2 linked regions of the Homo sapiens genome follow. The protein of the gene in region 1 purifies or fractionates together with the protein of each later gene. This does not show direct contact. Each region holds a gene or a part of one and is shown on either strand. Other genes may lie near its edges.

The links. Proteins that work in one complex are often made in the same cells at the same time.
Region 2: the proteins of AARS1 (region 1) and GARS1 fractionate together in Homo sapiens (co-fractionation; 2 studies listed by BioGRID). This does not show direct contact.

The regions. Positions count from the first base shown.
Region 1 is NC_000016.10:70,257,471-70,262,558, reverse strand, and holds part of AARS1 (alanine--tRNA ligase, cytoplasmic), read left to right. Parts: intron 1-34; coding exon 35-213; intron 214-1,401; coding exon 1,402-1,515; intron 1,516-3,372; coding exon 3,373-3,579; intron 3,580-4,341; coding exon 4,342-4,526; intron 4,527-5,088. UniProt on the Homo sapiens protein: Catalyzes the attachment of alanine to tRNA(Ala) in a two-step reaction: alanine is first activated by ATP to form Ala-AMP and then transferred to the acceptor end of tRNA(Ala). Also edits incorrectly charged tRNA(Ala) via its editing domain.
Region 2 is NC_000007.14:30,628,606-30,633,693, forward strand, and holds part of GARS1 (glycine--tRNA ligase isoform 1 precursor), read left to right. Parts: coding exon 1-64; intron 65-2,842; coding exon 2,843-2,936; intron 2,937-3,641; coding exon 3,642-3,832; intron 3,833-5,088. UniProt on the Homo sapiens protein: Catalyzes the ATP-dependent ligation of glycine to the 3'-end of its cognate tRNA, via the formation of an aminoacyl-adenylate intermediate (Gly-AMP).

The DNA of each region.
Region 1 (5,088 bases):
CACTGTCCCCTTTCTATGCATTTCCCTTGAGCAGTATTTGAGAACACAGTGGCTACGGTGATGGCTCTGCGCAGGGAGAAGATGTTCGTGGAAGAGGTGTCCACAGGCCAGGAGTGTGGAGTGGTGCTGGACAAGACCTGTTTCTATGCTGAGCAAGGAGGCCAGATCTATGACGAAGGCTACCTGGTGAAGGTGGATGACAGCAGTGAAGATGTGAGCCAACAGTTCTTCCTTGTTAGCCGAGGAGGGCCAGGCGTGGAGCCGGGGAGCTGCTTTTGCCCCACAGTGCTCCAGGCCTTGGGAGCAGACCTGACACACCTTTGGGTTGGGTTCCATGGTATTTCTGAAGCCGAGGGAGCTGTTGCTTGTACCTGTTGCTTTCCTGGCCATCGGGTACCCTCGTAGGAGTATTTTTGCAGCCAGGGTACAAGTTTCCTACAAGCTTTGCACATTAAAAAGGAGAGGCAGCTCTCTGAAGGGGAGATGTCCTTGTAGAAAACTCAGCCTCGAGCTCTGCCGCTGCTGAATGAGTTACTTTGTCTCCCTAGGCTTCAGGTTCCTTATGGAGGCTTTTAGATACTCAAAGATGCGGCTGGGTGTGGTGGCTCATGACTATAATCCTAGCACTTTGGGAGGCCAAGGCGGGTGGATCGCCTGAGGTCAGGAGTTCAAGACCAGCCTGGCCAACATGGTGAAACCCTGTCTCTACTGACATACAAAAATTAGCCAGGTATGGTGGTGGATGCCTGTAATCCCACCTGCTCGGGAAGCTGAGAGGGGAGAATCGCTTGAACCCAGGAGAGGGTGGTTGCAGTGAGCCGAGATTGCGCCACTGCACTCCAGCTTGGGTGGCTGAGCGAGACTCTGTCTCAAAAAAAAAAAAAAAATTCTAAGATGCTCCTTAATATTGGTTATGTCTGTGTGTGTGCACAAATATATTTAATTTTTTTTTTTTTTTTTTGAGATGGAGTCTCGCTCTGTAGCCAAGGCTGGAGTGCAGTGGCATGATCTTGGCTCACTGTAACCTCTGCCTTCCGGGTTCAAGCGATTCTCCTGCCTCTGCCTCCTGAGTAGGTGGAATTATAGGCACTTGCCTTCACGCCTGGCTAATTTTTGTATTTTTTTAGTAGAGATGGGATTTCACCATGTTGGCCAAGCTGGTCTCGAACTCCTGGCCTCAGGTGATCTACTCACCTGAGCCTCCCAAAGTGCTGGGATTACAGTCATGAGCCACTGCACCTGGCCTATTTAATCATATTTAATGATATTAAGGGAGTATGTGTGTGTGTGCAATTTACATATGTAAAGAGAAGTTATATACACGAGTTTATATTGAAAATATAAGAAAATTTGTATGTTTTTAAGGATTTATTTATTGGTCTCTTCCTTGACCCCTCTTAGAAAACAGAGTTTACAGTGAAGAATGCTCAGGTCCGAGGAGGGTATGTGCTACACATTGGAACCATCTACGGTGACCTGAAAGTGGGGGATCAGGTCTGGCTGTTTATTGATGAGGTGAGTTGGGTTACTGTGGCCCCCATTGGATCTGGTTAGTAATTATCTTCTCCTCTGGCTTTAAATTGTCCTGTCACTGTTGGGCCGGGTGTGGTGGCTCACACTTGTAATCCCAGCACTTTGGGAGGCCGAGGCGGGTGGATCATGAGGTCAGGAGATCGAGACCATCCTGGCTAACACGGTGAAACCCCGTCTCTACTAAAAATATAAAAAATGAGCTGGGCGTGGTGGCAGGCGCCTATAGTCCCAGCTACTCGGGAGGCTGAGGCAGGAGAATGGCGTGAACCCGGGAGGGGGAGCTTGCAGTGAGCCAAGATCCCGCCACTGCACACCAGCCTGGGCAACAGAGCGAGACTCCGCCTCAAAAAAAAAATTGTCCTGTCACTGTTATCACTCCCTAGTGTAAGTAGACCGCAGGGGTTAATTTAGGTGCATTTGGTGGATTGTGAGGGATGCAACTAAGAGTTAATCTATATGTTCCCAAGTCAGTGATTTCACCAGTGATTTCAGTTAAGATCCCGTGGACTTGTTTTCACGGATTGCTTTTCTAACGTCACCTACTTCTTTGGGAGCCAAGGATGCTGAAGAATGAAGAGGTAGGCTCTGGCATGTGACAGAGCTCCAGAGTAAGAGTAGCTTAAAACCAGGATAGCAGTGTATGTTCTAAAAAGCTCAAGCTGATACGGAGGCTCTGCCCCACAGTCAGAGGGCCTGGTTTCTCCTCACCTGTCACTCCACCTTCTTTCCTGGGGCATTGCCTTTGATTTCCTGGTTCAGAGGATAGCTATCAGATCCATTGTCTAGGCCAGGGGTTGGCAAACTTTGTGTAAATAACTGGATACTAAATATTTTTGGCTTTGCTGACCACATGTTCCTGGTGATGAGTACTCAGCTCTATAGTTGGAGTGTTCAAGCAGCCATTGACCATATGTAAATGAACAGGTGTGGCTGTGTTCCAATAAACCTGTTTATGGCTGGGCACAGTGGCTCATGCCTGTAATCCCGGCACTTTGGGAGGCCGAGGCGAGCAGATCACCTGAGGTCGGGAGTTCGAGACCAGCCTGACCAACATGGAGAAACCCTGTCTCTACTAAAAATACAAAATTAGCCGGGTGTGGTGGTGCATGCCTGTAATCCCAGCTACTCAGGAGGCTGAGGCAGGAGAATCGCTTGAACTCGGGAGATGGAGGCTGCAGTGAGCCGAGATCATGCCATAGCACTCCAGACTGGGCAACAAGAGCGAAACTCCTTATAAAAAAAAAAAACTGTTTATAAAAATTTATAAACACATACATTTGGGGAGGCTGAGGTGGGAGGATTGCTTGAGGCCAAGAGTTTGAGACCCAGCCTGGGCAACAACATGAGACCCCATCTCTACAAAAAAATAAAAAATATTAGTTGGGGGTAGTGGTGTGTGCCTGTAGTCCCAGCTACTTGGGAGGCTGAGGCAAGAGGATCACTTGAGCCCAGGAGTTTGAGGTGGCACTGAGCTACAATCGCGCCGCTGTACTCTATCCTGGGTGACAGAGCAAGACCCTGTCTCTAAAAATGAAAAGACAGATGACAGGCTAGATTTAGCCATCGGCCGTCATTTGGCAATTCCTGTTCTAGGCGGTGGAAAAGAAATGGGAGGACCTGCCCCATCCCTTTAATGGTAGACATCACTTCTGTTCAAAACCTTTTGACCCGAACTTAGTCACATGGACACACTTAGCCATAGGGAAGCTGGGAAATGTAACCTTTATTCTGCACAGCCATATTTCCAACTAAAAATTGTAGCACTCGGGGGAGCAGATAACGAGGAGATAACTAGCAGTCTATTACAGACCTCTCCATGAGCCCCTCTGCCCTTTCCAGCCCCGACGAAGACCCATCATGAGCAACCACACAGCTACGCACATTCTGAACTTCGCCCTGCGCTCAGTGCTTGGGGAAGCTGACCAGAAAGGCTCATTGGTTGCTCCTGACCGCCTCAGATTTGACTTTACTGCCAAGGGAGCCATGTCCACCCAACAGATCAAGAAGGCTGAAGAGATTGCTAATGAGATGATTGAGGCAGCCAAGGTAGGATGGGCGACGGCTGAATGCCCCCCCTCCCCACACCGTCACTGTCTGTCCACAGTCTTAGCAGTGCGGTGCTCTCACTCTGTTGTATCAGATTCGTCCTGCACGTAGATTTGCTTAAAGCAGGCTGGGCACGGTAGCTCACGCCTGTAATCCCAGCACTTTGGGAGGCCGAGGCGGGCGGATCACGAGGTCAGGAGATTGAGACCATCCTGGCTAACCCTGTCTCTACTAAAAATAGAAAAAATTAGCCGGGCGTGGTGGCGGGCACCTGTAGTCCCAGCTACTCAGGAGGCTGAGGCAGGAGAATGGTGTGAACCCGGGAGGTGGAGCTTGCAGTGAGCCGAGATTGCGCCATTGCACTCTAGCCTGGGAAACAGAGCGAGACTCCGTCTCAAAAAAAAAAAAAGTTTGTTTAAAGCAGTGATTCTCCATCTGTGCTTTTGCCGGGGGCAGTGGTGGTGGTTGGTGGAGGGGAGAGGGAGAGGCATTTGTCCCACCCCACCTTGGGAGAACCAGAGCTGTTCTAGTTAAGTCTGTTCACATATGAGATTTGGTCCACAGTTTAACAAAATAGTTGGAAATTCCCATACTGATGCCCTTGACTTTGCACGTGGCGTGTGATTGAGGAAGCTCATGGCACGTGCTAGGCCAAGCCAGGTTGGAACCCGAGTCCTGCCTGCAGGACCATGCTTTCCTGCCTCGTCGTACCGCACCTCCAGGGATCTCTTCCAGCTCTTTTCTGTCTTCTTGGTCTGGCAGGCCGTCTATACCCAGGATTGCCCCCTGGCAGCAGCGAAAGCCATCCAGGGCCTACGGGCTGTGTTTGATGAGACCTATCCTGACCCTGTGCGAGTCGTCTCCATTGGGGTCCCGGTGTCCGAGTTGCTGGATGACCCCTCTGGGCCTGCTGGCTCCCTGACTTCTGTTGAGTTCTGTGGGGGAACGTGAGTACTGCAGAGGGGCAGAGTAGACAGGTCATCTACCTTCATCCTCTGAGGATGTAGGTCTTAGGCTGGACCAACTCTTGTCTGTCTAAGGTTGAAGTGAAGTCCTCAGAAATGCCGTTGCTAAATAGCGTTCCCAAGAATCTCAGCATCCTAGCATGCTCATTAGATCCCTGTATCTGAAGGTAACATTTCCTGACGAAACATTCCCAGGAGGAAAAGGGGGAAAACATTGTATTCACATTACCACACAGTTGCTTGCTGTTGTTTGCTGGGCTGAAACTAGCAAGAAGGCTTGTGTGAATTTGGGATTCAGCAAGGCCTGGAGTGCTTGTTGAGCTCTTGATGTGGGCCTAGCCCTTCCCATTCCTGGTATCTCACCTAATTTCCTTTGACAGCTTGGGCGGCATCTGGGGAATGTAGCTCCATTGTCTCAGAGCCCCCGAGCAGGCCACGTGGTTGACTCAGCTCAGTTTGGCTTGGGATAGCCACTTCTGCCAATTTGGATTCCTCTGTATCTCTCTGGGCCTTTTTGGGAAGGTCATGGTGGCCTGGAAAGTTT
Region 2 (5,088 bases), on another chromosome or scaffold:
TAGGATCATGTATACGGTATTTGAACATACATTCCATGTACGAGAAGGAGATGAACAGAGAACAGTAAGTTGTTGTGTACAGTGTGCTGTTATAGTGTCAGAAAATAAAAATTTTCTGAATTACATTGTGAAGTACATTAATAAGACTCTAGAATGGTCAATTAGTTATTACTATAATCTAGTGCTATTAACACTCATCTTTGCTTAAGTATGTATAGACAAACCAGTTTCCTGTGTTATCTTATTTGAGCTTTAGGTTATTCTAGAAGCTATTGTTTTAGTTGCCTGGTGCTCTCTATTCTTAGACTGAACCTATTACTTTGGGGAACAATCTATATTATGTCAATGGAAGGAATGGTACTTTCTGGATATGCTGTGTTTCAGAAAATTGGGAAGGATGAGATAACTCCTAGAATTTAGCCAGACCACTAAGCTGTATCTGTACTCTGGTAAAGTATCAAAGGGAACCCTCTCAAACTGCATGAAATTGTCTGGGGTACTTTTGGGGTAAAGATGTGAATTCCTAGGTTCTACTCTGGAGATGCTGATTCACTAGGTCTGAGACCCAGGGATCTGGGGTTTTTTTAAAAAAAATAAGAATCCTGAGTGATTTCACTGTGAAAGCTTGACAGATCATAAATGGGATAATAGTTGTCTGGGGTATAGCCTTTCCTAGCATTCAAGTATTGCTGAAGATAGAAGTTTATAAGAAGTCTTCATCAGCTCCCACAAATTTTCTTTTCGGTCTGATGCTTCTGAATCACTGCTCCTTGCCTTCTTCCTCTTTATCTCCTTGCCTTACTTCACCATTTTTACCTCACCTCTGCCTGCAGAAGTTACACTCCTGGGCAGATTACTAGGAAAGCCAACCAGAAGAATGGCTAGAAAGGAGAGGTTGTATATGTCAGGTTAATTGAAAGAAACAGCGTCATCCACTTGGCCATTCTAAAGCTTGAGTGTACGTAATGTTAGACATCAACCGTGTGGTTCTTTCTAGGACATTTAACCTCAAAGAATGAACTAGTGAGTTCTCGGCACCAGTACTTTAGTCTGACACACTATTGTAATACATAGCTAATAAAGTTAGTATGGTACTCTCTGCCCTAAAGTTGCATCTTCATTTCCCAACCTTGAAGGAGCAGCCCTATTCATTCAACAGATTGTAAGAACCTGGGCTAGGCCCCAGGTGCGCAAACATAAGGCTTGGTTCTTTTTGAGAAATGATGACAAACATAACTGCATGTGTTCTTTTTAGATGTCAAGTCTGCTTCAAGCTTTGTCTGCTTATTTTTCTAATAAAAAGGTTTTAGAAAATCTTTTAGCTGTTCCTTTGAATCTAACAATATTAATATAACTAGAGCTTTAATAGAAATTTCGTAAGGGCTAAACAAGAATAAATTAGTCACAGTGTTTTATGAATTGCATGAATTCCCATCATGAAGAGAAATTTGATTAGGCTGTGGGAAGCCAAAAATGTTTCTAAATTATTAGCACCTAGTTCCTCAATCCATTTGCCTATAAATTTGGTATAAAAACATTGCTAGTGAAATTTTAAAAATTATTTTTCTATAAAGGCAGGTCCCTGTTACTCTCTTATATTAAATAGAAATATCACAAGATGGAGGAAGGGAATAGAATTCTGAACCTTCTGTGATGTGAGCAGCCATATTGGTGGAATACAGGCCTTACTTAGAGTGGGATATTCATTGCTTGGCAATAAAGGTTAATTGAACTTTGGGTGAGAGGCTAAACTGGAACCTGTGTCATTCATTATTTTTATGGGACAAATTTATTCTGTGTTTTTGCCTTCAAGTGAACCTTTTGTACAAGTATTAAGAACTGCCTTCAGTTCCCATTTCCAACCTAAAGTGGTTGATTGGTTTGCCTTCCACAGAATATTTTTATTTTCGCCTTTTTTTTTTTTTTTTTTTGGTCTCGCTTTGTTGCTCAGCTGGAGTGCAGTGGCACAATCTCAGCTGACTACAGCCTCAAACTTCTGGGCTCAAGCAATCCTCCTGCTTCAGCCTCCCAAGTAGCTGGGACCACAGGTGCGCCTCACAATGCCCAGCTAATTTTTTAGTTTTTGTAGAGATGGGGTCTTGCCATGTTGCCCTGGCTGGTCTTGAATTCCTGGGGTCAAGCAATTCTTCTGCCTCAGCCTCCCAAAGTGCTGGGATTACAGGCATGAGCCACTGTGTCCAGCCTTATTTTTGCTTTCTTTGATTTCTGAGTTACTCAGAAACTATTTCAGGGCAGTTTAAGAAGGCTGTACTTTTTAGTGTAGGTATATGGAACATCTTTTTTTGTTTTGTACTATTTCTTTTGGACATATGTTTGTGAGCTAATTAAACTTTTCTGTTTCACTTGGTCACTGAGGTTCATAGGTTTTTCTCTTAAAAGACAGAATGGGCTTTGGTTTGGGTCACTGCCACTTGTTTGAATATTTAGGTAGTCTCCACAGAAAGTCTTTTATGTGGAACCAAAAAATTACCGTCTTTTATATACAGTAGCTTTCAGAATGCTTTCACATCATTTGACTTTTTTAGTAACGGGCTTGTGAAGCAAGCAGAGCAGGTGGTAGAGACCTGCTTTTTAGGTGGAGAAACTAAGGTTCAGAAAGAGTTCATGACTTGGCCTAAATTCGGAGCTGAAACCAGGTGTTTCTGATGCTGGTTCTGCTTCTCTTTTGCCATACTGCTTTTCATGTCATGTTTTCTGGCATTTTGGTAATGACGTTATGCTTGAACACTTGCTGAATATTAACCTCTTTTGGTTTGGGATATTAGCATTTAGATATTTACAAATTAACATATTTGGATTTTTTTCTTTTTAAATCATCCAGTTCTTCAGTTTCCCTGCTGTAGTTGCTCCATTCAAATGTTCCGTCCTCCCACTGAGCCAAAACCAGGAGTTCATGCCATTTGTCAAGGAATTATGTAAGCAAATTCAATTGGGTAAACTCCATGGGAACACCATCAAGGAGACTGAATTTTAGGAAATGTATCATTTATTTCAATAAAAATATAGACTGAATAAAGAATATAAATGATTTTATAAAGAGTACATGATTTTAGCCTGTACTCTTATTTCTAAGCGAGAGGATATGCTTGCTCAGATGTTTTATTCTGGCATTTGAGTGAGGCAAGGTAGGACCCAAGAGTCAGATTTAAAAATTATTTACTTCTCATACTGACCTTGGTGCCAAGTTCATCGAGGGAACCTGAGTGGAGTGTAGCAACCATAATGGATCTACAGCCACAGAATCCACAGCCCTGAAAGGAATCCTGGTGGTCATCTGGCACATCCACTTATTTCAGAGCTGGGAAATGGGGAGAGTCCATTGACCTGCTTAGAGCCATAAAAATAGAGGTGGTGGAGTCAGGACTCACCTTCTGGCCTTGGCTCTTGGTCCCATATTTGTTCCCCCTATAGCTGTATCAGATGGAGGTATGAGTGAAGATTTGGATTCCCGCAAGGGATTTATTAAACTTTAGGGATATTTCTTTCTCTTGCAACTCAACTTGTTGCTTTCTTGTCTTGGTCCCATTTATAAGTCTCCTGAGCTTGTAAGACAGTAGTTAGATAACACTGGGCTTAACTCCATTGTTTTATTTTTAATTTACTTTGTTTATTTTGGATAGCGGAAGCCCTGACCAGGCATGGAGTATCTCACAAAGTAGACGATTCCTCTGGGTCAATCGGAAGGCGCTATGCCAGGACTGATGAGATTGGCGTGGCTTTTGGTGTCACCATTGACTTTGACACAGTGAACAAGACCCCCCACACTGCAACTCTGAGGGACCGTGACTCAATGCGGCAGATAAGAGCAGAGGTATCTGGCCTTCTCTTTGGCATTTTTAGCCTTAGAAATGTGTACTGCTTCTTACTGATTTGTGTTGGATTTTGATGTGTTTATGCTCCCTTTCCTTTTTTTTTCTTTTTAATTTTAATGAACGGCTTGTATCAGACAGAGCCCAGATTCTCAAGTCCCCCGGTTTAATTATGAAAATATCCATTAGCACTTCTCTAATATTTTATAAACATTTGTGTTGCTCCAGGCTTATTCTCCAGCAGTTTGCTTTTATACTTGTTTGTTTATTGGGCAAGAGAAATATGATCCTAAGAATTTGTTGCCATAGTTTTATTGGTAGGCTTTGGAGGGTTAGACATTTTAATGTTTTATTTTTACAGACGCGTATACATGTGTATGTATAAGCTTTTCCGTGTTCATATATTCAAAACAGTGAATCATGTTTCAGTAGTTTTGGTCAATAGGAAGGCAGTAATGGAGATGGTAGAAGCACAGAAGGAGAAGGATGAGTGGTAAGGGAAAGGAAAGAGTAGCTGCTTTAATTGACATCTGCCTGCCTAATTTATCACCTTTGAGCACATACATCAAGTGCCTGTTCTGTGCTTAGCTTGATACAGAAGTAATAGGGAAAACAGAAGCAAAAGACTGCTTTTTTTTCTGAAGGAGTTTATAGTCTAATCCAGAAGTCGTGAATTTCTAGCTTGACTTTTTAGAGACCATCTGGCTACTCTGGAGCTGTGTCCCCATCTGGGTGTGGTTCTCAAAAGTGTGGTCCCTAGACCAGCAGCATCAGTATCCCCTGGAAATGTATGAGATAAGCAAAACCTCCACCCCAGACCTACTGCATCATAAACTGGGGGTGGAGAGGCAGAGGGGGCAGGCAGAACTTTCTTAGTTTTAGCAAGACCTCCAGATGATTCTGACGTGCACTCAAGTTTGAGAACCATTGCTGTGTGGCAGCCAGTGTTTGGTTTTGGCTGAGGAACAGTAGCCTTGGTCAGAGCTCTCCAGTTTGCCAGTCTTATGTAATTCCCTCACACGAGTTACTTGACTGAGTCCTGTTTGTTCTAATAGTTAAATTTAATACACATGAAGTAACTTCAAGGGACATGGAGATTTAGAAAAGTTAGGAAAGGCTTTGTGGCAGAATTGAGTTGTCTGGGGGAACTGGTGGGCGTTTTGGGCTAGAAGAGCATGAACCCATGCCTGGCATGACATTGTTTGGCTCTGTGTAAGGTTTCCTGAGTTCAGGATGAATCTTCTTCTTAAAAATCTGA